4 linked regions of the Homo sapiens genome follow. The protein of the gene in region 3 interacts with the protein of the main gene of each other region in a pairwise test. Each region holds a gene or a part of one and is shown on either strand. Other genes may lie near its edges. The genes, in order: CTCF, BEND2, ZMYM6 and POU2F1.

Evidence for each region.
Region 1: the proteins of ZMYM6 (region 3) and CTCF interact in binary tests that used the Homo sapiens proteins (3 or more experiments, as listed by UniProt).
Region 2: the proteins of ZMYM6 (region 3) and BEND2 interact in binary tests that used the Homo sapiens proteins (3 or more experiments, as listed by UniProt).
Region 4: the proteins of ZMYM6 (region 3) and POU2F1 interact in binary tests that used the Homo sapiens proteins (3 or more experiments, as listed by UniProt).

What each region holds. Positions count from the first base shown.
Region 1 is NC_000016.10:67,621,526-67,628,525, reverse strand, and holds part of CTCF (transcriptional repressor CTCF), read right to left. Parts: coding exon 6,935-7,000; intron 1,972-6,934; coding exon 1,811-1,971; intron 157-1,810; coding exon 1-156.
Region 2 is NC_000023.11:18,196,851-18,203,886, reverse strand, and holds part of BEND2 (BEN domain-containing protein 2), read left to right. Parts: coding exon 1-386; intron 387-1,946; coding exon 1,947-2,072; intron 2,073-7,036.
Region 3 is NC_000001.11:35,028,916-35,036,498, reverse strand, and holds the start of ZMYM6 (zinc finger MYM-type protein 6), read left to right. Parts: upstream 1-4,553; 5' UTR 4,554-4,684; intron 4,685-5,785; 5' UTR 5,786-5,859; coding exon 5,860-5,952; intron 5,953-7,583. UniProt on the Homo sapiens protein: Plays a role in the regulation of cell morphology and cytoskeletal organization.
Region 4 is NC_000001.11:167,223,858-167,230,893, reverse strand, and holds part of POU2F1 (POU domain, class 2, transcription factor 1), read right to left. Parts: intron 1-7,036. UniProt on the Homo sapiens protein: Transcription factor that binds to the octamer motif (5'-ATTTGCAT-3') and activates the promoters of the genes for some small nuclear RNAs (snRNA) and of genes such as those for histone H2B and immunoglobulins.

The sequences.
Region 1 (7,000 bases), on a different chromosome or scaffold from region 3:
AGAACAGACAAAAGCCGCAGGGACGAAGTTGGGGTCGTGATAGCGCTTGAAGTGCATGTCGAGAAGCTGCTTCTGGCGGAAGGTCTTATCGCAGTGGCTGCAGGCGTAAGGCTTCTCCCCGGTGTGGGTGCGCTTGTGCATGATCATGTGCCTCTCCTGAAACGGCATAGGGGGAAAGGCCTCAGAGCCTGCTCATGGGGCTACTGCCCCAGCTGCCACCTGCATGCATGTGGCCAACAGGTATTTCTCACCCAAGCTAGGTCTAGACTCCACACGGCTTGTTGAGATGATAAAGCTATATATTTAGAGACAGGGTCTTGCTCTGTTGCAAAGTCTGGAGAGCAGTGGTGTGATCATGGCTTACTGCAGCTTCAAAATGGGACCATAGGTATGAGCCACCATGCCTGGCTAATTTTTTTTGTTTTTTTTTTGAGACGGAGTCTCGCTCTATCGCCCAGGATGGAGTGCAGTGGCGCGATCTTGGCTCGCTGCAACCTCCACCTCCCGGATTCAAGCAATTCTCCTGCCTCAGCCTCTTGAGTAGCTGCGATTACAGGTGCCTGCCACCACACCCAGCTGACTTTTTTTTTTTTTTTTTTTTTTGAGATGGAGTCTCACTCTGTCGCCCAGGCTGGAGTGCAGTGGCGCAATCTCGGCTCACTGGGTTCATGCCATTCACCTGCCTCAGCCTCCGGAGTAGCTGGGACTACAGGCACCCACCACCACGCCCAGCTGATTTTTTGTACAGACGGGGTTTCACTGTGTTAGCTAGGATGGTCTTGATCTCCTGACCTTGTGATCCACCTGCCTCGGCCTCCCAAAGTGCTGGGATTACAGGCGTGAGCCACCGCGCCCGGCCGACCTTCGTGTTTTTTTGTTTTTTTTTTTTAGTAGAGATGGGATTTCACCAGGTTGGCCAGGCTGGTCTTGAACTCCCAACCTCAAATGATCTGCCTGCCTTGGCTTCCCAAAGTGCTGGGATTACAGGTGTGAGTCACCGTGCCTGGCCCCAGCTAATTTTTTCTTTTTCTTTTGGAGACAGAGTCTCGCTCTGCCACCCAGGCTGGAGCGCAGTGGCGCAATCGCGGCTCAATGCAACCTCCGCCCCAGGTTCAAGCGATTCTCCTGCCTCAGCTTCCAGAGTAGCTGGGATTACAGGCGTCTATCACCATGCCCGGCTAATTTTTGTATTTTTAGTAGAGGCGGGGTTTCACCGTGTTGGCCAGGCTGCTCTCAAGCTCCTGACCTCAAGTGATCCGCCCACCTCAGCCTCCCAAAGTGCTGGGATTACAGGCGCTCGAGCCACCGCGCCCGGCCCTAATTTTTTCTTTTTGTAGAGATGGGGTCTCTCTCTGTTGCCTATCTCGGCCTCCCAAAGTGCTAGGATTACAGGTGTGAGCCACTGCACCCGGCTTGATAAAGGTATTTTTAGTGTGGTGCACAACTGCTTCCATAATTGTAGCACAGATAGAGCTGCTTATTCCTGCTGAGCTCCTTCTTTGGCTCCCTCCCAACAGTCATGTCCCCGCATGAGATTCTTCCCCTCTCTCAAGTCCTGGACTTACTTTCCACAGTTTTCAGAAAGATGTCTGCTTAAGGAAGAGGTAAGCTGTGACTGAATAAAACATCATCTGGACACCGGGATGACACAATTGACAAGGAGCATGACCTTTGATTTTGGTGACATTCCTCATAATCCACAGTTTGAAAATACTATCTTTAAAAACAGCCACTGTACTAGATATGTAAATGCCCTCTGATAACACCAGACACCGAGAAAGCACCAACAACTTTCAATGAAGGTTCCTACCTGTCTACAAGCGTAATCACACTGGTCACACTTAAAGCGCTTCTCATTCTTGTGTGACTTCTGATGCTGGATGAGGGCATAGCGCTCATGAAACACAGCATCACAGTAACGGCATTTCTTGCCTTGCTCAATATAGGAATGCTGCTTTCGCAAGTGGACACCTGAAAGCACAGTAAAAAGCCCAGGGTAATGTGAAAACACAAACAAGCATTTTAACAAGTTACTAATACATTTCTCGATTCTTTTTTTTTTTTTTTTTTTTTGAGACGGAGTCTTGCTCTGTCACCCAGGCTGGAGTGCAGTGGCGCAATCTCAGCTCACTGCAAGCTCCACTTCCCAGGTTCATGCCATTCTCCCGCCTCAGCCTCCTGAGTAGCTGGGACTACAGGCGCCCGCCACCATGCCCGGCTAATTTTTTTATTTTTTATTTTTGTATTTTTAGTAGAGACAGGGTTTCATCATGTTAGCCAGGATGGTCTCAATCTCCTGACCTCGTGATCTGCCCGCCTCGGCCTCCCAAAATGCTGGAATTATAGGTGTGAGCCACTGCGCCCAGCCCATTTCTCCTGATTCTTAAGTATTACTCTGGGTGCTATACAGAAAATGAATGAAAAGGCAGAGTAACAGGTGCAGGGAGAACAATTAAGATTGTTCAAACAGGATAGGTGGGAGAAGATGGTGGCTGGGACAAGGGTGATGACAATGGGTGTGGATGGAAGGGGAAGAACTGATGAGAGATGGAAGCAGTTGAATCAACAGGATTTAGTGACTGTAGAGAGTGAAGAATAAAGTAGGTATCAGGCCTGGAAAACCAGGTAGCTGTTGGGGTCATTTATTGAGACAAGAATAGTGGAAGAGGGCTTAAGACCAAGTTGTATGTGTTATTTTCAGGGTCGGGGGGTGGGGGGGCATAGGGGACAGAGAAGTTTTAGACCTTCAGTTTTAGACATGCTGAATTTGAAATGCCAGAGATATAAAAGCAGGGGTGGGATGGCAAGGGATACACAGTTATATAAGGCTAACTCAAAAGAAAGATCTGGAGTAGGAATATAAATGTACAAGTTGTTAGGATTTGAAAGCAGCTATGCTTATCACTGTACCACCAATGCCACAAAGAGTTGTTAGAATTTGAGCCCATGGGAGCTGATAAGATCACCAAGGCAAAAAGTAGAATTAAAATAAAAAGAATGGGTCATGCTTTGAGAAGTCTAAGAGTTGGCAGGCACAGTGGCTCACGCCTGTAATCCTAGCACTTTGGGAGGCCATGGCAGGTGGATCACCTGAGGTGACGAGTTCAAGACCAGCCTGGCCAACATGGCAAAACTCTGTCTCTACTAAAAAGTACAAAAATTAGCTGGGCGTGGTGGTGTATGCCTGTAAACCTGTAATCCCAGCTACTCGGGAGGCTGAGGCAAGAAAATGGCTTGAACCTGGGGGGCAGAGGTTGCAGTGAGCCAAGATTGTGCTACTGCACTGTACTCTAGCCTGGGCGACAAAGACTCCATCTCAAAAAGAATCCCAGCACTTTAGGAGGCAAAGGTGGGTGGATCACCTGAGGTCAGGAGTTTGAGACCTGGCCTGGCCAACATATAGTGAAACCCGTCTCTACTGAAAAATACAAAAATTAGCTAGGCATGGTGGCGTACACCTGTGGTCCCAGCTACTCGGGAAAATGAGGAAGGAGAATCATTTAAACCAGGGAAGTGGTGGTTGCAGTGAGCCGAGATCGCGCCACTCTACTCCAGCCTGGGTGACAGAGTGAAACTCCGTCTCTCACACAAAGCACACAAGCACACATACACACAAAGAAGTCTCAGAGTTGGGCCAGGTGTGGTGGCTCACACCTGTAATCCTAGCATATTGGGAGGCTGAGGTGGGTGGATTGCTTGAGTCCAGGAGTACGAGACCAGCCTGGGCAACATAGTGAAACCCTGTCTCTACCAAAAGCTAAAAAAAAAAATTAGCTGGTCATCGTGGCATGTGCCTGTGGTCCTAGCTACCAGGGAGGCTGAGGTGGGAGGATTCCTTGAGCCTGGTCGATGCTGCAGTGAGCCAAGACTGAGCCACCGAACTCCAGCCTGGGCAACAGAGCAAGACAGTCTCCAGTAAAAAACAAAAACAAAAACAAAAACCTTGGAGTTAAGGCCAGTGAGAGAAAAAAAGGTTAAAATAAGAGAAAGTTTAAAGAAGTAAGAGGAAGAAGAAAACCAACAGGATTTAGTGTCACAGAGGCCAAGGGAAGAAAGTGTTTCAAAGGAAGAGGGTACTGTCAACGATGAAGAACACTGCTAACAGATCAAGTCATCTCTTAGGAAGAAGAGTGGAAAGGAGTCTTCACTACATTCAGAGAGTGGGGTCATTCATGACCTTAAGCAACAGTCATTATACCAGAGTGATGGGGAATAAGCCAGACAAGAGGGAAAGATGAGGGGGAGAAGACTGTGAGGGATGTTAACTCTTCATAAAGGCTGGCTGGGAAGGAGAGAAGAGTTAAACCTAGAGGGTGAAGACATACATATATATAAAAATACATATATATATGAATACATATATATATACACACATATATACACACACACACATATATATACACACACATACACACACACACACACACACACACACACACACACACACACACACATATATAATTTTTTTTTTTTTTTTTGAGACAGTGTCTCACTCTCTTGCCCAGGCTGGAGTGCCGTGGCGCGATCTCCGCTCACTGCAACCTCCCCCTCCCGGATTGAAGCAATTCTCCTGCCTCAGCCTCCCAAGTACCTGGGACTACAGGCATGTGCCACCACACCCGGCTAATTTTTGTATTTTTAGTAGAGATGGGGTTTCACTGTGTTAGCCAGGATGGTCTTCATCTCCTGACCTTGTGATCCGCCCATCTCAGCCTCCCAAAGTGCTGGGATTAGAGGCGTGAGCCACCGTGCCCGGCTATATTTTTATTTATTTTAAGAGACGGGGTCTTGCTATATCACACAGGTTGGTCTAGAACTCCTGGCCCATCCTCCTGAATAGCTGAAACTACAGGTGTGAGCCACTGTGTCTGGCTAAGATTCTTTTTTTTTTTTGAGATGGGGTCTCTCTGTCACCCAAGCTGGAGTGCAGTGGCACGATCTCGGCTCGTTGCAACCTCTACCTCTTAAGCTCAAGTGATCCTCCCACCACAGCCTCCTGAGTAGCTGGAACCAAGGGTGCACCTCACCACAACCGTTTTGTATTTTTGGTAGAGATGGAGTTTTGCCATGTTGCCCAGGCTGCTCCGGAACTCCTAAGCTCAAATGATCCACCCACCTTGGCCTCCCAAAGTGCTGGGATTACAGGCGTGAGCCACTGCGCCTGGCCCTTTGTCTTTATTTTTTAAGTAGGAAGAGAAGTCATTTACTGAGACCAAGAGGGGAGAGAAAAAAGAAGGAAAATTAGAGGTTATAAGAAAATAGGAGTAGGGGATCTGGTGTAGCAGCTCTCGCCTGTAATCCCAACACTTTGGGAGGCCAATGAGGGCAGATCACTTGAGGTCAGGAGTTCGAGAGCAGCCTGGCCAACATGGTGAAACCCTGTCTCTACTAAAAATACAAAAATTAGCCATGGGCGGGCACCTGTAGTCCCAGCCACTTGGGAGGCTGAGGCAGGAGAAGAGCTTGAACCCAGGAGGCGGAGGTTGCAGTGAACAGAGATCAGGCCACTGCACTCTGGCCTGGGTGACAAGTGCAAAACTTTGTCACAAAAAAAAGCAAGTGAGGGCTGGGCGCGGTGGCTCATGTCTGTAATCCCAGCACTTTGGGAGGCCGAGGTAGGCAGATCACCTGAGGTCAGGAGTTCAAGACCAGCCTGGCCAACATGGTGAAACCCCATCTCTACTAAAAAATACAAAAAAAAAAAAAAAAAAAAATTTAGCCGGGCATGGTGGTATGCGCCTATAATCTCAGCTACTCAGGAGGCTGAGGCAGGAGAATCACTTGAACCTGGGAGGCACAGGTGGCAGTGAGCTGAGTTCATGCCATCATACTCCAGCCTGGGTGACGAGAGGAAAACTCCATCTCAAAAAAAAAAAAAAAAAAAGTAAGAGTAGGTTGCCCAACTCTATATAAGCACCAAACACTGTGGAATGAATTCGCTCACTCATAAAGAACTGGAGCACACCTGACAAGAACAAACAGCTGGAACAGCTAGGAGCAGTGAGGGCCCAGCTACATTTGGGATCATGAATTTATGTATTTACGGTACTACAAGTTGTATCAACTGAGGTGATATCCCACTAAACTTAAAGAGAGCTAATTATTGGGAGTAGATATGAGGTAAGGGAGAGGATGGCTCTCACTTTTTACTCGTTACCTTTTTTTTTTTTGAGACAGAGTCGCGCTCTGTCACCCAGGCTGGAGTGCGGTGGCGTGATCTCTGCTCACTGCAAGCTCCACCTCCCAGGTTCACGCCATTCTCCTGCCTCAGCCTCCCGAGTAGCTGGGACTACAGGCGCCCACCACCATGCCCAGTTAATTTTTTGTATTTTTAGTAGAGACAGGGTTTCACCATGTTAGCCAGAATGGTCTCGATCGCCTGACCTCGTGATCCACCCGCGTTGGCCTCCCAAAGTGCTGGGATTACAGGTGTGAGCTGCCGCGCCCGGCCTACACTAAATATTATTAATAAACTCCGGCTGCATGTAAACTCTAGTTTAACTATGCACAGAAATACAGTTACCACTAAACCAATAAAACAGTCCCATTACCTAGAGAAAGTACAGACGTTCTCAAAAAAATACAATAGAATGACCTGAGTTTGAATCACACTATGTTACTTTCCTATTTGGGGAAGGAAGGCTACTAATTAAAGGTGTACTCTGTCTCCTCCCATCACAGCTCCCATTAATTTATAGATGAGTTTTACTCAGGACAGAATCTTGTGGCCTGACTACAGTAAGAAAAGGAAGAAATAGAAAAAAAAAAAAAAAAAAAGCAGCTAAGCAATGGCTTTTACTAAACTAAGTGACAGGCCATTCCTATACATAAAATGTTATGAGAGTCAGAAGGTGAAGTTATTTTTGATCCCCATATTTCGAAATATAAATCCTTCAAAATATTTTTTTCACTTCTCACTAGTTAATCTACTTACCCAAATCACTTTTTCGGGCTATGACTGTGTCACAGTGGGGACAGTGAAATTTGGCCACATTTTCTG
Region 2 (7,036 bases), on a different chromosome or scaffold from region 3:
AAGGCAGGAAACCCATGCCTGGGCCAGCCCTGCTGTAACATCTCTTGAGTCAGCAGCATGTCATGAACTGCAGGAAGCAGACCTCAGTGAGAGTTTATCATATCCCAGAATTGTCTCCTCAAGTTCATTACAGCAGTATGTCGCACAAGGTGGCTCATTTCCTTGTTTCGGTATGCCATGGAACTTTATCAGTGGAGGTGCTGAAAGTACCAATGCTGTCATCTCATTTGCCAATGCTACTACAGCAGTACCTATGGCAGTTCTGTCACGAAGAGAATCCAGTCTGGCAAATAACCCTGGTGTGGTGAATTACTCTGCTCTACCAGAAAATGAAAATGTGGGCCCAGGTAGAGCCTTGTCATCTTTCTGCTTCCATCCCAATTTGGGTGAGTTTGAAATGACACATATTACAGATAGCATTCTTCAATCTAGATTTTAAAACACCCTTCATGCAAATTAGTGTTAGTTATTTTTTAAATTAAAAGTTTTATCTTGAAGCCATTATAGATTCATATGTAGTTGTAAGAAATAATACAGAGAGATACCCTTTCCCCAATTTTCCCCAGTGGTAACATCTCATAAGACTGTAGTTTGTATTCATTTGTGTGTCTGACTTTCGGCTTTTTTTTTTAAAACAATTTTATCAGATGAGAAAGTTTGTATGTTCCTACCATAGTCAAGATACAGAACCGTTCTATCACCAGAAAGTTTGCTTGTCTTGCCTTTCTATAACCAAACCCATCCTCCTTTTCCTTCCCCCACTTACCTATTCCTAACCTTTGGCAAGTGTGATCTCTTCTCCATCTCTATAATTTTGTCACTTCAATATTGTTATATAATTGGATGCATATAGTATGTAACCTTTTGGTACTGGCTTTTTTTTACTCAACATAATCCCCTGGAGACTCAACCAAGTTGTGTGTTTCAGTAGTTCCTTTATTGCCAAGTACTATTCCATGGTATAGGTGTGCCATGGTTTAACCATTCATCTATTGAAGGAAATTATTTTTCCAGTTTTTGACTATTAGTAGTAAGGCTGCTATGAAAATTCATATACAAGTTTTTGTGTAAATGGAAGTTTTCATTTCTCTGACATGATTACCCAAGAGTGCAACTGCTGGTTATATATTAATTGCATGTTTAGGTTTTTTTAAAAAAACAAATCTTTATTGAGATATTAATGTCTTGGTCTGTTTGTGTTACTATAACAAAATACCATAGACTGGGTGATTGAAAAAGAACAGAAATGTAGTTTCTCACAGCTCCAGAGGCTGGGAAGTTCAAAAGCAAGGTGCCAGCCGGTTTGTGTGGTGAGGGCTGCATCCTCTGCAAGAGAGGAGCACTGTGTCCTCACATGGCAGAAGGTAGAAGGACAAGATTTCAAAATGCCGTGTGAAGCCTCTTTTATAAGGGCCTCCATCCCATTCATGAGGGAGGAGCCCTCATAGCTTAATCATCTTAAAGGTCCCATTTCTTAATACGATCACATTGGCAACACCTGAATTTTGGAAAGGATACCTTCAAACCATAGTAATTGATAAGTAAAAAACTGCACATATTTATTATACCCAATGTAATGAGTTTGGACATATGCATGTTTAGTTTTATGAGAAACTGCCTAACTATTTTCCAGGGGCGCTGTATCATCTGACATTCTTGCCAGCTATATATGGGTGATCTACTTTCTCTAAATGCATATTTCTGCTCTTTCTTTTGTTCTTTCTTCCTGATGCTCCAAGATTCCTTCTTTCATCATCTTCTTTTTTTGATTGAGGAGTTTTCTTTAACCTTTCTTTAAGGGTAAGTCTGCTGGGGACAAATTCTTTTTGTTTTCCTTTGTGTGTGAATGTCTGTTTCTCTTTCTTTCTTGAAGGATAATTTTGCTTTGTATAGAATTTGTGGGTGAAGTTCTTGTATTACAGCTCTTGAAAACTTTTTATTTACAGAAATGCCAGAAAGACCAGCAAACAGCAGTAAAAACAGCACTGAGACAGCGAATTATCCAACTTTAATGGGAAATTACAATGGCCAAAATACTGCCTCTTTATCTGTCTTCATCCCTCCCTATTTTGGTGAGTTTGAAATGATACATAATGCTGGGCGTGGTGGCTCACACTTGTAATCCCAGCACTTTGGGAGGGTGAGGCGGGTGCATCACCTGACATCAGAAGTTTGAGACCAGCCTGACCAACATGGTGAAAACCCGTCTCTACTAAAAATACAAAAAATTAGCCGGGTGTGGTGGCGGGCACCTGTAATCCCAGCTACTCCGGAGGCCGAGGCAGGAGAATCACTTGAACCCAGAGGCAGAGGTTGCAGTGAGCTGGGATCATGCCACTTAACTCCAGCCTGGGCAACAAGAGCGAAACTCCATCTCAAAATAAATAAATACATAAATACATAAAAAAGAAATGATACATATTGCAAATAGCATTATTTAACCTTGATCCACCAGTTTTTTTTTTTTTGTTTTTTTTTTTTTTTTTTTTTGAGATGGAGTTTTGCTCTTGTTGCCCAGGCTGGAGTACAATGGTGCGATCTCGGCTCACTGCAACCTCCGCCTCCTGGGTTCAAGTGATTCTCCTACCTCAGCCTCCCAAGTAGCTGGGATTATAGGCATGCACCACCACGCCTGGCTAATTTTTTTGTATTTTTAGTAGAGACGAGGTTTCTCCATGTTGGTCAGGCTGGTCTCCAACTCTCAACCTCGGGTGATCTGTCCGCCTCTGCCTCCCAAAGTGCTGGGATTATAGGCGTGAGCCACTGCGCCCAGCCTGATTCACCAGTATTTTTAATGTCAGCTAGTGTGACTCTTTTCAAACTAAACTTTTCGGTTTGAGATAATTTTAGATTCACACACAGTTGTAAGAAATAATGCAGAGAACTGTTTATGCTTTAGCCATTTCCCCCAAAGGATGACATCTTTAAAACTATAGTAAAATATCACATCCAAGGTAGTGGCATTGATACACTCCACAGATCTTACTGAGATGTTCCCAGGTTTACTTGTAATTAATTTGTGTGTGTGTATTTAGTTCTTTGCAGTTTTATCACAAGTAGTTTTAATGTCTACCTCCAGTGAAGACATAGAACGTTTCTATCACTGCAATGATGCCTCATCTTGCCCTTTGATAATCACATTCACTTTCCTCATGTCATCCTTTCCTTCCAACCTGCCCCATCCCTAACACCTGGTAACTACTGATCTGTTCTCTGTTTATAATTTTGTCACTTCAAGAATGTTATATTAAGGGAATGTTACAGTATGTAATTTTGGGGTATTGGTGTTTTTCACTCAGTATAGTTATCTGAAAACTCACCCAGCTTGTTGCATGTATCAAGAGTTCCCTCCTTTCTTTTCTTCTTTTTTTTTTTTTTTTTTTTGAGACAGAGTCTTACTCTGTTGCCCAGGCTGGAATGCAGTGGCGCGATCTTGGCTTACTGCAACTTCTGCCTCCCGGGTTCAAGCAATTCTCATGCCTCAGCCTCCTGAATAGCTAGGATTACAAGTGTGTGCCACCACGCCCAGCTAATTTTTGTATTTTTGGTAGAGACAGGGTTTCACCATGTTGGCCAGGCTGGTCTCAAACTCCTGACCTCAGGTGGCCTGCCTGCCACGGCCTCCCAAAGTGCTGAGACTACAGGCATGAGCCACCACACCCAGCCTACCCTCCTTTTTATTTTTGATTTATATTTCATAGTATGGCTATGCCACAGTTTGTTTAGCCATTCACCCATTGAAAAGGCATCAAATTGTTTTTTTTTCCAGTTTTTGGATATTAGGAGTGAAGCCACTATGAACAGTCATGAACAGGTTTTTCTGTAAATATAAGTTTTCATTTCTCTGTCATGAATGCCAAGAGTGTAATTGCTGAGCCTTATGGTACTAGCATGTTTAGTTTTATAAGAAACTGCCAAATAGTTTTCCAGAGAGTCTGTATTATCTTCCATTTCCACCAGCAATGCATGAGTGATCCAGTTTCTCCACATTCATATTTCTGTTATTTCTATTGTTCTTCCTTCTGGATGCTCTATATTTTCTTTTTTCATCCATTCCTTTCTGTTTGAATACTTTTCTTCAGCCTTTCTTTCAGGTTTCTTTAGTGTTCCTGCATGTGAAAATGTCTTTATTTTCCTTATGTTCTTCAAGGAACATAGTTTTGCTGGGCATAGAATTTGTGGCTGAGAGTTTATTTTCCATCAATATCCTGAATGCAAGTCAGTGGTAGCTCTTTAAAAACAAAAAAAAAAACTAGGCTTTTTATTTTGAGATAATTTTGAATTCACATGTAATTGTAAGAAATTGTACAGAGATCCCATTTATACTTTACCCATTTTCCTCAATGATAACATCTTAAAGAACTATATCCTGCATCCAGGATATTGGCATTGATTAAATCCACATCTCTGTGTGTGTATTTAGTTCTATGAAATTTAATCATGAGTCAGTTTACATGTCCACTATTAGTTACAATACAGAACATTTCCATCATCACTACAAAGATCCTTCATATTGTTCTTTTAAAACCATAGCCACCTCCCCCAATCTCCCTTGCCTCTCATCTTGCCCTGTCTTAACTACTGATAGTCAGCAATCTCACTTTGTTTGCCAGAATTTCATTATTTGAGTATCATTACTTAAATGCAACTAAATGCTGTGTAACCTTTTTATTTATTTATTATTATTATACTTTAAGTTTTAGGGTACATGTGCACAATGTGCAGGTTAGTTACATATGTATACATGTGCCATGCTGGTGTGCTGCACCCATTAACTCGTCATTTAGCATTAGGTATATCTCCTGATGCTATCCCTCCCCCCTCCCCCCACCCCACAACAGTCCCCAGAGTGTGATGTTCCCCTTCCTGTGTCCATGTGTTCTCATTGTTCAATTCCCATCTATGAGTGAGAACATCCGGCGTTTGGTTTTTTGTCCTTGTGATAGTTTACTGAGAATGATGATTTCCAATTTCATCCATGTCCCTACAAAGGACATGAACTCATCATTTTTTATGGCTGCATAGTATTCCATGGTGTATATGTGCCACATTTTCTTAATCCAGTCTATCATTGTTGGACATTTGGGTTGGTTCCAAGTCTTTGCTATTGTGAATAGTGCCACGATAAACATAAGTGTGCATGTGTCTTTATAGCAGCATGATTTATAGTCCTTTGGGTATATACCCAGTAATGGGATGGCTGGGTCAAATGGTATTTCTAGTTCTAAATCCCTGAGGAATCGCCACCCTGACTTCCACAAGGGTTGAACTAGTTTCCAGTCCCACCACCAGTGTAAAAGTGTTTATTTCTCCACATCCTCTCCAGCACCTGTTGTTTCCTGACTTTTTAATGATTGCCATTCTAACTGGTGTGAGATGGTATCTCATTGTGGTTTTGATTTGCATTTCTCTGATGGCCAGTGATGATGAGCATTTTTTCATGTTGTCTGTTGGCTGCATAAATGTCTTCTTTTGAGAAGTGTCTGTTCATATCCTTTGCCTACTTTTTGATGGGGTTGTTTGTTTTTTTCTTGTAAATTTGTTTGAGTTCATTGTAGATTCTGGATATTAGCCCTTTGTCAGATGAGTAGGTTGCGAAAATTTTCTCCCATTCTGTAGGTTGCCTGTTCACTCTGATGGTAGTTTCTTTTGCTGTGCAGAAGCTCTTTAGTTTGATTAGATCCCATTTGTCAATTTTGTCTTTTGTTGCCATTGCTTTTGGTGTTTTAGACATGAAGTCCTTGCCCATGCCTATGTCCTGAATGGTAATGCCTAGGTTTTCTTCTAGGGTTTTTATGGTTTTAGGTCTAACGTTTAAGTCTTTACGCCATCTTGAATTAATTTTTGTATAAGGTGTAAGGAAGGGATCCAGTTTCAGCTTTCTACATATGGCTAGCCAGTTTTCCCAGCACCATTTGTTAAATAGGGAATCCTTTCCCCATTTCTTGTTTTTGTCAGGGGTTTCTGCTTTTGCTTCTATCTCATGAGAGTTATTCACTATCACAAGAATAGCATGGGAAAGACTGGCCCCCATGATTCAGTTACCTCCCCCTAGGTCCCTCCCACAACATGCGGGAATTCTGGGAGATACAATTCAAGTTGAGATTTGGGTGGGGACACAGCCAAACCATATCATTACTCAAGGAGAATTTCACTATGTATAAATTCACGGTTGAGAGTTCTTAAGCACTTGAAAAATGTTCTTTCTGTACGTATGCCGAGAATTGCAGAAACCAGGCTGGAAAACAACCCTCAGACAATGAATTACCCAATTTCTTCGGGAAATGGCAGCGGCCCATGTTCTTCCTCTTCATCTGCCGGCCTCACACCTAATTTTGGTGAATTTCAGATGCTGTATTACAAGTGACACTATTGAATCCGGATCGATCAACATCCTTAATGCAAGCTAGTAGTAGCTCGTTTTTGAAATTAAACTTTTATTTTTATTTTTTTGAGGCGGAGTCTCACTCTGTCACCCAGGCTGGAGTGCAGTGGTGTGGTCTTGGCTCACTGCAACCTCTGCCTCCTGGGTTCAAGAGATTCTCCTGCCTCAGCCTCCCAAGTAGCTGGAACTATAGGGCATGCCACCATGCCTGGCTAATTTTTGTATTTTTAGTAGGGACGGGGTTTCACCATGTTGGCCAGGCTGGTCTCAAACGCCTGACCTTAGGTGATCTACCCTCCTTGGCCTCCCAAAGTGCTGGGATTATAGGCGTGAGCCACCGTGCCCAGCCATTTTTATTTTGAAATAATTTTAGATTCACATGTATTTGTAAGAAATAATAGAAATGATCCCCTTTATGCTTTACCCTTTTCTACCAGCAATATCATCTTACAAAACTATAGTAAATTAACACAACCAGGATATTGACATTGATACAATACACAGATATAACTGAGATAGCCCCAGTTTTACTTATAATAATCTGTGGGTGTATCTGTATTTCTTTCTGTGCAAGTTTTCTTCCACGAATAGGTTTGATTCTCACCACCACAGTCAAGACATAGAACATTTCCATCACCACCAGGCTGCCTC
Region 3 (7,583 bases):
ATGGCCATATTTAACCTTCCACAGGTAACTACAAACATCTTAAAGTAAATATAATATTCAATAATTTTATGTTGAAAGCAACATAACAGGAAGATATAGATGCCCAATATCACCATTTCCATTCAACATATTACTACAGGTTTTAGCCACTGCAATAGGCAAGAAAAAGAAATAAGTTATATAATTGGAAAGAAATAAAATGGTCATTATTCTCTACATAGCTGGAAACAGAAAGTAAGAAAAATGGCTAGACTATTAGAATTAATTAGTTTAATTAATAATTCAGCAAGGGTGCTAGCTTCAAGACCAACATACAAAAATAATTGTATTTCTATATTTACACTGAAAACAATTAGAAAATAAAAATTTACATTTAAAATGACATGAAATATTAAATGCCTAGAATAAATCTAACAAAGAGGTGTGCAATATCTACACTTAAAAACTATAAAGCATCAAGATAAATTACAGACACCAAAATAAATGGAGGAATATATCATTTTTATGGATTGAAAGATTCAACCCCACAGAATGCTGTTATTAGTTTCCTAAGGCTGCTTTAATAAAGTACCACAAACTAGGTTTAAAAAAAACAAACAGAATTTATATCACCATTCTTGGGGCTAGAAGTCTAAAATTAAAGATCGGTAGGGTCATGCTTTCTCTGAAACCTATATGGGAGAATCTTTCCTTGCCTCTCTTAGCTTTTGGTGTTATCAACAATCCTTAGCATTCCTTGGCTTGCAACTGCAGTACTTCAATCTCTGTTTCCATCATCGCATGGGGTTCTCCTCCAATGTGTATGTCTTCATATCTTCTCCTCTCTTAAGGACACCAGTCATAATGGATGAAGCGCCCACCTTCCTTCAGTGTGGCCTCATCTTAACTAATTACATCTGCAACAATCCTATATGACTAAATAAGGTCCCATTCTAAGGGTTAGGACTTCAACATATCTTTTTAGGTGACACAATTCAACATAATGAATAACAAATACCAATTCTCCAAAACAGGCATACCACTTCAGTATAATACTAAACAAAATCCCAATGGATTCTAAAATTTGTAAGGAAAGTTTTGTCACAACTGACAAGCTGATTCAAAAATTTACATGAAGATGCAAAGGACCAAGGAAAGCCAAGATAATCTTGAAGGACATAATAGGAGGGAGGACTTTTTCTATCATATACTAAGATTTATTATAAAGCTATTACAGAAATTAAGACAGTATGGTATTTCCACAAGGAGAAACAAAAGGAACAGCCTTCATAGTCCTGAAATAAACCCACACATATATAGACAACTGATACATGACAAAGGTGTCAATGCAGAACAGTGGGGAAAAGGACAGTCTTTTTAAAAAATAGTGCTTAATCCATGCAAAATTCACATGGAAAGGTTGAAATCTGACTTACCTTACACTATACACATAACCCAACCACAGATGGATTATAAAACTAAATGTGAAAGACTAATAACACTTCTAGAAATTTTCTTCATTTGGTAGGAAAATATTTCTTAAGAGAATACAATAAGCACTAAGCACAAAGGGTTTTTTTGTTGTTGTTGTTTGTTTGTTTTTTGGATGGAGTCTTGCTCTGTCACCCAGGCTGGAGTGCAGTGGCATGACCTCAGCTCATTGCAACCTTCGCTTCCTGGTTCACGTGATTCTCCTGCTTCAGCCTCCCGAGCAGCTGGGACTATAAGTGCACACCACCATACCCGGCTAATTTTTTTTTTTTTTCCTGAGGCAGAGTCTTGCTCTGCCACCCAGGCTGCAGTGCAGTGGTGCGATCTTGGCTCACTGCAACCCCTGCCTCTGGGGTTCAAGTGATTCCCCTGCCTCAGCCTCCCTAGTAGCTAGGATTACAGGTGCCCACCATGCCCAGCTAATTTTTGTATTTTTAGTAGAGACAGGGTTTCCTCATGTTGGCCAGGCTGGTCTCAAACCCCTGGCCTCAAGAGTTCCGCCCGCCTCAGCCTCCCAAAGTGCTGCTATTATAGGCATGAGCCACTGTACCCGGCCACAAAGGTCTTTTAAGTTCATCAAAAGACACCAATAACAGAGTGAAAAGGCAAGCTACCGAGTGGGAGAAGATATTTGCAATATATACAGTAGTCCCTCCCTTATCCATGAGGATATGTTCGAAGATGTTCCACAGATGCCTGAAACCTCCAGTAGTATCAAACCCTATATATGCTATGTTTTTTCCTATACATACATACCTATGATAAAGTTTAATTTATAAATCAGGCACAGAAAGAGACTAACAACTAACAATAGAACAATTATAACAATAGACTTTAATGAAAGTTGTTTAAAACTTATGAATTATTTGTTACTGGAATTTTCCATTTAATATTTTCAGACCGTGGTTGAGTGTGGGTAACTACGACTTCAGAAAGCAAAACCGTGGATGAGGGGGGCTAGTGTATATTCAAAAAAGACTTATCTTAGTGTATTCCTGATTGCCAAAAGAAAATGCCACAGACTGTGTAATTTATAAATAGTAGAAATTTATTTCTCACAGTTCTGGAGGTTGGCAAGTCCAAGATCAAGGCACTGGCAGATTTGTTGTCTTGGAATTACTCTCTAATTCCAAGATGAAACTTTGTTGTTGTCCTCTTGCTGGGAGGAACATTGTTATCATACAGTGAGGGGTTAAAAGGGCAAAAGGAATGAATCTTTGTGAAGGGCATGAATGCCCTCTTTTGTAAGGGCATGAATCCCATTCATGAGGATGGAGTCCTCATAGCCTAACCCCTCCCAAAGGCTCCACTTCTTATACCATCGCCTTAATGTTTAAGTTCCAATATATGAATTTTGAAGGGACACATACATTCAAACCATAGCAGGATTCATATCTAAAATATATGCCCATAAGAAAATGTCAATCCAATACAAAAATGAGCAAGAGACTTGAACAGGCACTTATGGGGGATATCCAGATACCCAAGGAACAAGAAAATGGGCTCATCCTCATTAATAATCTGGGAAATGCAAATTAAAACCACAGTGAGATACCACTATGCCCCCATCAGAATGGTTATAATTAAAAAGATATGCAGCAGTAATTATTGGCAAGGATGTTGGGAAACTGAAACTCTCATACATGGCTGAAGGGAGTATAAACTGAAACCACCATTTTCTAAAATTGCCTGAGATTATCTACCTAAATTTTACATATACATAACAAGCAATTTCACTTTTAGGTATGAACCCAACAGAAATGTGTGCATATGTATCACTGTTAAATAAAACTTGTAGGCCATTGTTTCGGGCTAAGCTCCTGCAGTAGGTCTCAATGAACCAGACTAAAAATCAAAATGGAGTCACTCACACTGAGGTTCCATGTCATCAAATGGAAACTACGTTGTTATTTGAAGTTCTGAAAAGTCAGGAAAAAGAGATAATAAGAGTCTAATTTCCCCTGAGTGCCAGTTTCAATTAGCATAATAATGAAATTTCTTCTGCTTTAATCGTTACCAAAAAAAGATAAACTGAAGTTACCTGATGTTAACCAATCAGTTATTTCTCTATTGTTTTGTTTCTTGGTTCTGCTTTACAAGGAAATTAACTTATTTATTTATTTTTTGGAAAGTTACTTTGAAATGAACCAATCTGTTTTTTGTTCTTTACTTCTGCTTTCTCCAGCCCTTCTCTGTCTATAAAACCTACCTCTTCTGCTCAGCTCATTGGAACACTTGTTCTATTTTATGGAATGAAGTGCTGCCAGATTCTAGAATCACAAATAAAGCTAATTGAGATATTTAAATTAAATTTGTTGTAATTTTGTCTTTTAACATCACCAATGACAAGAATGTTCACAGAAGCATTATTCCTAATAGCCACAAATTGGAAACAACTCAAATGTCCATCAGTAGTAGATGATTAAAATTGTATCATATTCATAAAATAGAATACTATACAGCAGTCAAAATGAATGAACAGTCACAAATCATACACGTATCTGTGAAACAATGTTGAATTAAAAAAACCAAATCTCAATTTTGAGCAAGTTTTTTCATTTATATCTCAAGAGATTAAAAAATTATACCTCTTAGGGTTAAATGGTGAGGATTAAGTGGGATGGTGCATGTGAAGTGCTCAGCAAGCCAAGTATTATTTAATATCATGCTCTCTCAGTAGGCCACCTTTCAGGAAATGGGCACTAAAGGATGCTACAGATTAGCTAGGTGTGGTGGCACGTGCCTGTAAGCCCAGCTACTCGGGAGGCTGAGGCAGGAGAATCGCTTCAACCCAGGAGGCGGAGGTTGCAGTTAGCCGAGATTGTGCCACTGCACCCCAGCCTGGGCAACACAGTGATACTCTGTCTCCAAAAAAAAAAAAAAAAAAAAAAAAAAAAAAAAAAAAAAAAAAGAATGCTATAGAGCACTTACAGCGCCTTCTAACGCCATCTCCACCTTTTCACTATTGAGCCTCGGTCTCTTTAAGAAGTGAACCATAATTGAGGAAAGAGGAATGCTGGGAAGTTCTACTCAGCTCAGGTCCGGAGCCTGACGGGAAAAGAGGGCGGAGACCAAGGCTGCGCAGGCGTGGTTGGCCGGTCGTTGCGTTGGGATGGATCAGGCGGAATTCCAGAAGAGAAAATAATCCCTGTCTAGATGCAGAGGACTTGGTTCCTATTCCAGTGCTCCTCCGGTAGCAGGGAGGCGACAGAAGGTGGGTGCGGCCGCAGTGGTAGTGGGCGGGACGGCGGGGCGGAGGCCACACCACGTGACGAGGCGTTGCGGCGGGGGCGGTGCCAGGTGGGCTACGCGGCTGGGGCGGCTGCGGATATCGCCTTAGGGACGCGTTGACATTCACTGGCTAGTCCACCGCTCTCAGTCGGAGACCACATTGCCTCGTTAGTCCTCAATGATGGGAGTGGGAATTCTTGGTGGGAAGGAGAATTTCGGAAAGCGTGCGGTTCTCAGAGGAGGGATGAGCGCCCGTAGATATTTTGTGGCGAGTGCGCAAAAGTTCTCATTTCTTCTTTGGAACAGGCTTTTCAACCAGTTGTCCGTTTCCATCCCGGACTATTCGGATAAAGACAACTTTGAAGAGCTTTTTGTTTTAGGTTTAATTCGTCCCGTTTAGTTCTTTGACTTTTAGGGGAAGGGAATTTACTGAATGGCCAATTGAGTTTCTTTTCTACAGGAAGGCGATTGTGAAGCGGGGCTCTGAGGGGCTTGATGCCCCCCACCCCTCACACGGAGACCTTGAAAGAGGCAGGTGACTCACTTTCAGTAAGGGCGTTCCTGTTGTTCGCCTGCGATGGATGGCATCTTGAGCTCACATCTAGCGTTAGGCCGAGAAATGGGGCCCTTAGGGAGGCTTCCAGTGAAGGTTGAGTTATAGGTCAGGGCCGGGAGGTTGTTGTGCCCCTCTTTGAGAAATAAAAGCCGACGTGGGCCTCTAAGTACTGATTCTTATGGGGTCAGAAACTATTTCTTGAGTCCGTTCTTCTCAGAGTTTATTACTTCCTCCCACGTCTTGGTCTGCTGGTCTAATTCCCTTCAATAACCTTCAACATAGGAAAAAACCAGAGTGTGTTGTGTGTCTTTAAAGATATTAGAGAAGTGGGAGCTGTTGCCCCAAAACTGTTTTCTTATGTAGCTACTGAAGGAACAGAAAGCAGGAAGAAAGAAAAAAGTTAGTTGTGGCCCCAGAAGAGTTGTTTTTCAAATGCCGAGCCGTGAAGCCTCATGCACTCAACACAAAGTTTTTCTTTCATATAGATAAGCCTGAAGAAAAAAGAATAAGCCTGAGTATGTATTTTAGGTGTCCAACTATCCATTACCAAGAAGAAATCTATTCGTTTGAGCCTGAGACACTCTTTGAGGTAAAAAATTAGAATGAAAGAACCTTTGGATGGTGAATGTGGCAAAGCAGTGGTACCACAGCAGGAGCTTCTGGACAAAATTAAAGAAGAACCAGACAATGCTCAAGTAAGCATTTCATCTTCATTTAAAAATTTAAAAAAATTCCTTCTTTTCCATCTGGTCAACTGAAAAATTTTAGTTAAACGGCTTCTGGTTTGTAAGTTTAAAATAACCCAAACTGAGACAGGCTCTCGCTGTCGCTGAGGGTGTAGTGCAGTGGTGCGATCTCCTTAGCTCACTGCAGCCTCCACCTCCCAGGCTCAAGTGATCTTCCCACCTCAGCCTCCTGTGTAGCTGGGACCACAGGGCACACACCAACATGCTCAACTATTTTTTTGTATTTTTGGTAGAGACGGGGTTTGGCCATGTTTCCCAGGCTGGTCTCAAACTCCTGAGCTCAAGCAATCCACCCACCTTGGCCTCCCAAAGTTCTGGGATTACAGGCATGAGCCACCATTCCTGGCTGGTTTTTTGCTCTTTGAATGAAAGCTATAACTACATGATTTTTTTGTGTGTGGAAGGAAAGTAATATATTTACCATTTTTCCATACTTGTCACTTAAAAAAAATTCTCTTGTATCTGGTAGTACTTTCCTTTATTCTGTTAAGAATTTGTGGTCTGTGCTAGTCTCTGGGGATCCAGGATTGAGCAAAGTCAGCTTAGTCCCTTCCCTTGTAGAGCTTATATGTTAGTAGAGGAGGCAGAGATTACAAAAGTATTGGTCAAGTAATATATATAATTACAAACTATGACAAGTACTCTGGAAGAAAAGCCTAAAATGGGGAATCTGACCTAGTTTTGGTTGTGGTCTGCCTGGGGATGGCTAGGGAAGGCCTCTCTAAGGGAAGGATGTGTAAGCTGAATTATGAAGAATGAATTGATTAGGCAAAGGGTATGGAGAAGAGTATTACAGACAGAGGGAACTGTGAATAGGAAAGCCCTGAGTTGGAAAGATGCATGGTTCTTTTTAAGACCTGCAGGAACAGTGAGCCTGGAACAGAAAAGGTATGAAAATGGTGATGATGATAATGATTAAAACAACAACAATAAAAATAGCTGGCATTAGTATATCAGTATGTAGTATATATTATATCATAATCATATGTGACATTATTAACTTAATATTTATATATGCTTAAGAGTGTGTCAGGCACCATTCTTACCACCATATTATTATCCCCATTTTACAGATGAGGAAACCAAAGCTCAAAAAAGCCAAATAGTTTACCACAGATCACAGTTAGTAGTAAATGACAAAGACTGGATTCAAATCCAGGTGGTCAGACTCCAGAACTTGTGCTATTCTGCTTCTCTATGATAAGGCTGTATATATAGTTTAAGGCTGGATTATGTAGGACGTAGCAGACCTTGTTATAAATTTTGGTTTTTATCCTAAGAGCAGTAGATAGCCATTATAGGGTTTTTTGTTTTTGTTTTGAGATGGAGTTTTGCTGCAATGTTGTAATCTTGGTGGCTCACTGCAACTTTCACATCCCGGGTTCAAGTGATTCTCCTGCCTCAGCCTCCCCAGTAGCTGGGATTATAGGCGCCTGCCACCACGCCTGGCTAATTTTTTGTATTTTTAGTAGAGACGGGGTTTCACCATGTTGGCTAGGCTGGTTTCAAACTCCTGACCTCAGGTGATCCACCCACCTCAGCCTCCCAAAGTGCTAGGATTACAGGCGTGAGCCACCACA
Region 4 (7,036 bases), about 130 Mb from region 3:
TCCATGGGTCACCCCATGGTGACAAAGATTGAGAACCACTAAGTCCATCAACCAAGCATTCATTATTTGTTAAATGTCTAGGCCTACTCTGTCCCTACCAGTATGTTCCTGCACTCAAGGCTCTTAGGACAAGATTTACTTACATAATCAATTAGAGAAGAAAATAGGACTGTGTATAATGAAGTGCTGAATTGGGTAACTGAACACAAATTAAGTGCTAATTTCAGAGAAAGTATGACAGGAGCTCAGATTTGACAGATGGCTATTTGTGGAGATAAAGAAATGGACAGACAGGTCCCTTAAGATAAATAAGGACAAAAGTTTTCAAGTCATGACCAGCAGAAGTCCTAAGGACCCTGTGAAAGTGCCTCAAAAGCTACTGTGGAAAGGAGGAGGAAAATGCTTTTCTTGCTCCAATATCCAATTTTAATCAGAACAGCTCCACTTTTGCCTTTAAAAAAGAACACCAAAGGCTTTTAAAAGTTTGAAATCCCTTATTTTACAAATGCAATTAAAAAAAAAATCCATGGTGAAGTAACTTGTCCTAAAGTTACTAAGCTAATTAGTGACAGAGAAGCCAGGTCTCTGAACCCCCCAGTACCTTTTTTCACTCTACCATACCATACACCATGGCCTTCCAATGGAGGAAAAAGTGTGAGTAAAGGTTCTCACACAACGTCCCAAACACACTGGCTTGACCAAAACACTGGGTACACATTCAGGTCATGTGTCTCAAACTGGGATTGGTGTTGCAAGGATGGTAATGGGAGAAAGGCTCAGGTAAGTCTCAGGATAAATTATAGCCATCCTCCCAAGATAGATCTTCAAATTTTAGGGAAATTTCTTTAAAAATTAAAATCTGATAATATGCTGTATTTGTGGTAGAAATGGACAATAAGGGAACTTCCTTGATGGAATTGTTGAGTCATGCTATTTAAGGAAGTAGTAAAGATAATAATGCATAGGCAAGGGTAGGGGCTAGATAACAGAATGCCCTGAAATCAAGGTAAGTTGTATTTGCTACAATGCAACACCTCCACTGTATAAAGTTTTCAGAAGAGTATTAGGAGTGTCCATTCCTCCTAAGATGCTGGCTGCACCAAAAAATGAACAACCTACAGTCAGGTGCCCCACAGAATCCATCGGCTGCTAAAGCTTCTGCTTCTCTACAGCAGCACAAGTAATAAAATTCCTGATTTTACTCCTGTGCTCATGTAAGAAAAACTATTACAGAGTTACTTTAAAAATGCTTCTGCTATCAATTTGATACTCCCCACAGCATCCCTCTAACACTGGTATTATCACCATCGTATTGTTGAAGGAAATAACCTTAGAAGACAGTGCCAAAGCCAAAATGAGATATCTAGAATTTACAACGTTCAGATTCAATACTCAGTCCACACGCACAGTGGCATGAGCATAAATTTCAACCCTAGTATTAATGTTTATCAAACATTTAATTCACTAAAAAATTTTCAATTTTCACAAGGAATCTACAACCCAATAAGACCCACCCAAACATGTCTCAAATGACATGTCAAAGTGAATTCACTGACTTACTCCCCAAATGGCTCCTTTTCCCAACATCCCTACATCTGCTTATGGTAATGCTCTTTTCTGGATAACCTAAACTCAAAACCTTGATAATCTCTTTGCATCTAATTAGCTGCTAAACTTTAAGGGCTCTGATCATGGCACTGTCCATAACAAAAAAAAATTAAAAAAAAAAAATTCAGTGACTTCCTACTGCCTAGCAAATAAAATCCAAACTCTTACACCAACACAAAGGATTCAGAGCTCTCCACAATAGAGCCCCAAAGTGCCTTAATACACAGCCTAAATAACAACTAAGCTGGAAGTCTTGCTATTACCCACACTTAATGCTTATAAAAACACAGGACCTTGAGAAAGTCACTTAATCTAAGTTTTATTTTACTCGACTATAAAATGGGTATAGTAACGCTTGCCTGAAAGGACTAACTGAGGTAATGAAAATGAGAATGTGGCTATAAATTTTAAAGTACTATAAAAATACAGACATTATCACTGTGCCATGGTTATGGTAATATTATTTATACCTGCCTTGCTCCAGAAAGGATGTAAGGTGGCCCACATAAAACAAGATAAAAAGAGTTTAAAGATGGAAGCAATACAAGAAATACAAAACAAATGCATGGACAAAAAATTGATCTACTAATCAGGCTAAGAAATGCAAACGTAATTGCCTATGCATGTGCTTCTCAGGTTAATAATCTGACCTAAATTTGACCAAATCAAACTGTAGTTTGATTTGAAAAGGAAACTAAGTCAATTAGACAATTCAGTGTCCATAAGACTAAAAACAAATAGTTTCTACTGTAAAGGCCAGGTAAGAATTTCTCCCAAACGTCCTTATTCCATGTAATGTAATTGGACAATATCCTCAACACCTTTATCACGACTTATCTATTTCATAAATTAGACTGGAAGTCTCTTGAGGTCAAGTAATTTTTAAATTATGTTTGTATCTCTAGTAGCACCTACAGTAATTAGTTAATAAACCAAATACCTCTATACACTGGTTTCTATGGATCTAATCTCTCCCTTCCTATTTCAAACCATCCTGCACACCACATTACTCCTAACACACCATTTTTATCACATCAGTCCCTATTTCAAAATCCTCCAACAGCTTTCCTGCAGATAGAACAAATGCTTCCTCATTCTTTACCTATACATCACAATGTTGAACACAATCTCCCCTTCAATGGCCTTCTCTGTATTCCCATTCCTCTAAATTCTTTTTGCCCTTTAAAGCTCGGTTTAAAAGTCTCGCCTTCTACATAAAGCCTTCTCTGACTGACAGCAATGGGGCAGGAGGAGAGACTGGGAGGTGGGAGAAAGTTAGAAGTCTTGTGTTCTTATCTGTTACTGAATAGTTAAGTGACTGTGAGCAAGTCACTAAACCATTGTGAAAATATTTCCTCATCTGTGAAGCAAAACCTTTAGCAAAGATTATATCTAAATTACCTTCCAGCTATAATATATTCTAGGATGCTCTGGCTCTTTCAAACTTGGACACACTCTGATCTATTCTCCAATCTTCATTATCTGTTACATATTTTAATATGTAATTATATACACTGTTTTTCAATTTTTCCTGCTTAAGTAAACATACCAACTCCTCCGCAGCAGTCATATTTCCTTGTTATTCCCAAAGACTACAGGCATAGGACCAGGTACATAGCAGATACCTTTTATAGACTAGGATGGTAACTACTTTAAAACATTAATTATAATATTGCTTGCTGCAGTATGAATCAGCCAAAAAAGGCTGTATTTTTCATTAAGCAGACCACTAAAATAAGTGTACTAAAACAAGAAAACACCTAAGTCACTTTTCCATATAAAAATATATTCCCTTTAAGGTATCAGTGCAACTCCATTAAGGTAATCATATGTTTAAGCACAAATGAGTCGTTTAACACACAGCATATTGTTCATTTTCCAGCCATTCCTGTTTATATCTTCTATTGCAAAGAGAAAGTTCAACAGAGGGGGGGAAACCTGCCATAATAATTATTATTATTGATTTAATTTCATATACCATTTCTATATTCCAACATAAAAAGCATAAAGTTACAAAGAATTATGAAATAAATAATGTGATAAACTGCACTTGCTATGACTTTCAATATTGAAGACTTAGTAAAGCTACTACAAACACTTAGCTTTGTGGAATGTGAACATTGGCTGTTAAAAAAAAGTTAGTATAATGTATCCTCTCCGGATAAATGTCCAGGAGTTCCAGCAGTTTAAAAGAAATCTGGGCCAGGTGTGGTAGCTCATGCCTGTAGTCCCAGCACTTGGGGAGGCCACAGTAGGACTGCTTAAGCCCAGGAGTTTTAGACTAGCCTAGGCAACATAGCAAGACCCCATCTCTTAAAAAAAATTAAAAATAAGAGAAAATAAATGAATAAAAGATAATCTGATAAATCTAGAGGTTTGCTGATTCTTCTTTTGCTCAATTACTAGTCCTGTCAGCAAATGTAGGCAACACTGAAATCTTGAGTGCTTGCTTAATTGGAAATAAATAAATAAATAAATAAAACCCAAAAACAAAAGAGCTCTATTAGTCACTGAGTATACAAAGATACCAATGCTCAAAAAATTCACACCCCATAGTAAAAACACACAGAACCCCATAACCACATGCACTGTATGCAAGGAGCATCTTCAAATCAGAACTTCTGAAACTCAAGACAATTCTCATATTCCAAATTCTAAACATACTGTAAACGGATCAAGTAAGTCAGGCAATAGCTCTACTCAGGCTATTTTTGTTTCCATTGTTATTACTGCTGAAACAGTTTATAAGAGCTCATCACCTGTTTAGAACACAGAAATACTTCGGTACAAAACAAACCAATTTATTCCTAAGAAGAATTAAAATCTACAGTTATTCAATTCTCTTTACTTATGAAATGTCAATAATGCACAAAAATGTCCAGCGAAAGATGCATAAGGAAACTGCTATTCTCTGTGAACCTTAATTATTATCCCTTTCAACCACTCAAAAGGATATTTACATCCTTTAAGCAACACAGTAAGAAGTAAGCAAAATGGTGACTCAAAGTTACCCCAAAAAAAGGAAAAGGAAAAAATTCATGCAGAAAGGGTACAGAAATTCAAAGCAGATATGTCACTGAATCAAATCAACAACTTTCAACTCTAACGCCCAAGAAATAGTAAGTACATTTGCTCAGGCATTTAGCATTTAAGGAGGGATCAGAAACAAGAACATGGATAACCAAAAGGGGGCATGTTTTGTTTGTGACTTGGTCTGTTCCCTAAACGCAAATTACCTGAATAGTTCTAAATTCAAATGCAATCACTTTCATTAGGAAAAACACATTCCTGCTTAAAATCAGGCTTCATAGCAAGTCTTTACTAATCACAAAAACTGTGTAATTAACACAATTATATAAAGGCAAATTAATGAGTCACACAACATTATTTTTAATGGTGCTTGAAAGACTAATATGCAAAGATTACAACTATGGGGTTTCAAAATTAAAAAACAAAACAAAAATAACCGATAACAACAAGGCAATCACTACTACATAATATTACAGTCTTCCAAGTACAAAGGAAACATTCATGAAAATGAGTGACCAACTTAAAAAACACAAATAAATTCAAGATGAAGCAATACAGATTCAAGAAGCAGGTCAAATATTTCAATTTTTAATAGAAAATACTTAAAGATAACATTCAAATTTCCACTTCTGTTATTTCAGAACCACCTGCCTAAGATATTCAAGGGTCTATTAAACATCTTTGGTGGCTTGAGAAGAGCAACGTAACATTTTGAGCCCTGAACTTATTGCAAAATCCACTAACCAGATGAATGGCAGATTGACAATTACTTCAAACTAGGCAGCAATGAAACATATTTTATTTACACTGCTTTATACTACCTATTGATGTAGAGAATAGTAAATTTAAAATATGGCAGAACACTACACCTGAATTCATTTGAACCTGAATAATAGCTACGGTTTGTTTTTTCCTTGTCTACTGGGATTTTTGACAATGACAAAATGAAAGGAATTACAAACTAATTTGAGGGAAGAGGTTAAAAATTGCTTTTACGGTAATGGTTTGGAAGCAGAACAGTCCTTTAGAAATCAAAAACAGTTGGTCAGCTGTCACATGAATTTTCAAGACCTTGATTCAAAAGTATCATTGTAATTAATAGGTGGGAGAGTTAAGAAAGTGACAACGGGCTGGGCATGGTGGCTCACGCCTGTAATCCAGCACTTTGGAAAGCCGAGGCGGGTGGATCCCTTGAGGTCAGGAGTTCGAGACCAGCCTGGCCAACACGGTGAAACCCCGCCTCTACAAAAAATACAAAAATTAGCCGGGCGTCATGGCGCATGCCTGTAGTCCCAGCTACTAAGGAGGCTGAGGCAGGAGAATCACTGGAACCCACGAGGCAGAGGTTGCAGTGAGCCGAGATCGCACCAACGCACTCCAGCCTGGGAGACAGAGCAAGACTCTGTCTGGAAAAAAAAAAAAAAAAAAAAGAAGACAGTGACAATGGATTTCCTAGAAATACGCAGGAAACTACTTGACAGATGCAAAAGGAGACAGGCAGGTTATAAACTCATGTGGGTTCAAAAGTAACCTAAAATACTCTATCAAAATTGGATCACAAATTCAGGTTAGAAATAAAGCAATTTTATCACATTCTCAGGGAATTTTAATCATCACCTTAAAATAAACTAATAATTAAAAATATGAGAAATGTCTTACAAGAAAATCTATTAATATGTCAAAAATTCTAAGTGCAATCACTGTTGCAATGGAACAATTTTAAAATCACTAATCAAAACAAAATGAACAAACTTGTCCAGACTAAGATAAATCCAAAAAGAATTCTGAATTTTTTTTAAAAAATCTGTTTTAAAAGCACATGCTTTCCTGTGAGTATTCTACCTTATTTTCAACATTATCATTTCCACCTTAAAGAATACACAGCCCTCATTCTCAACTCTGCTTTATTCACTGAAATGGATTCTAAGGCAAATGGTCTCTCCATTAGCCTAAGCCATGCTCTGATTAAGAAACACAGTTTCTTATAAAAGTCTGGGGGATCACAACAAACATTTATATGGGTCACTTCTATGACTATCTATCTAAAACCCAAATACTCCATTTGAGAATTTTGAGGAAATGAATTTTTACAATAGCATTAAAAGTGAACCAAAATATAAGGCCAGTTAACAACATCCATCCTTTTCTGTATTACAAAAACTGTAACAGCGAAATTTTGCTTGTAAAATCCAATGTACATTTTATCATTTTGTATAAAATATCTACGGCCTCAGTAGTGATTAAATTGCAGCTATAAAGGAAATTGACCCGAAATAAATGGTTTCCCTATGAGAAGGCTTCACTGCTACACTTCACCTCAGGACAATAAATCAAATTAACTGCACCTTGTCCTCTGTCCAATGACATCATCAGTTTGACCACATCTTGGGAATCGGGT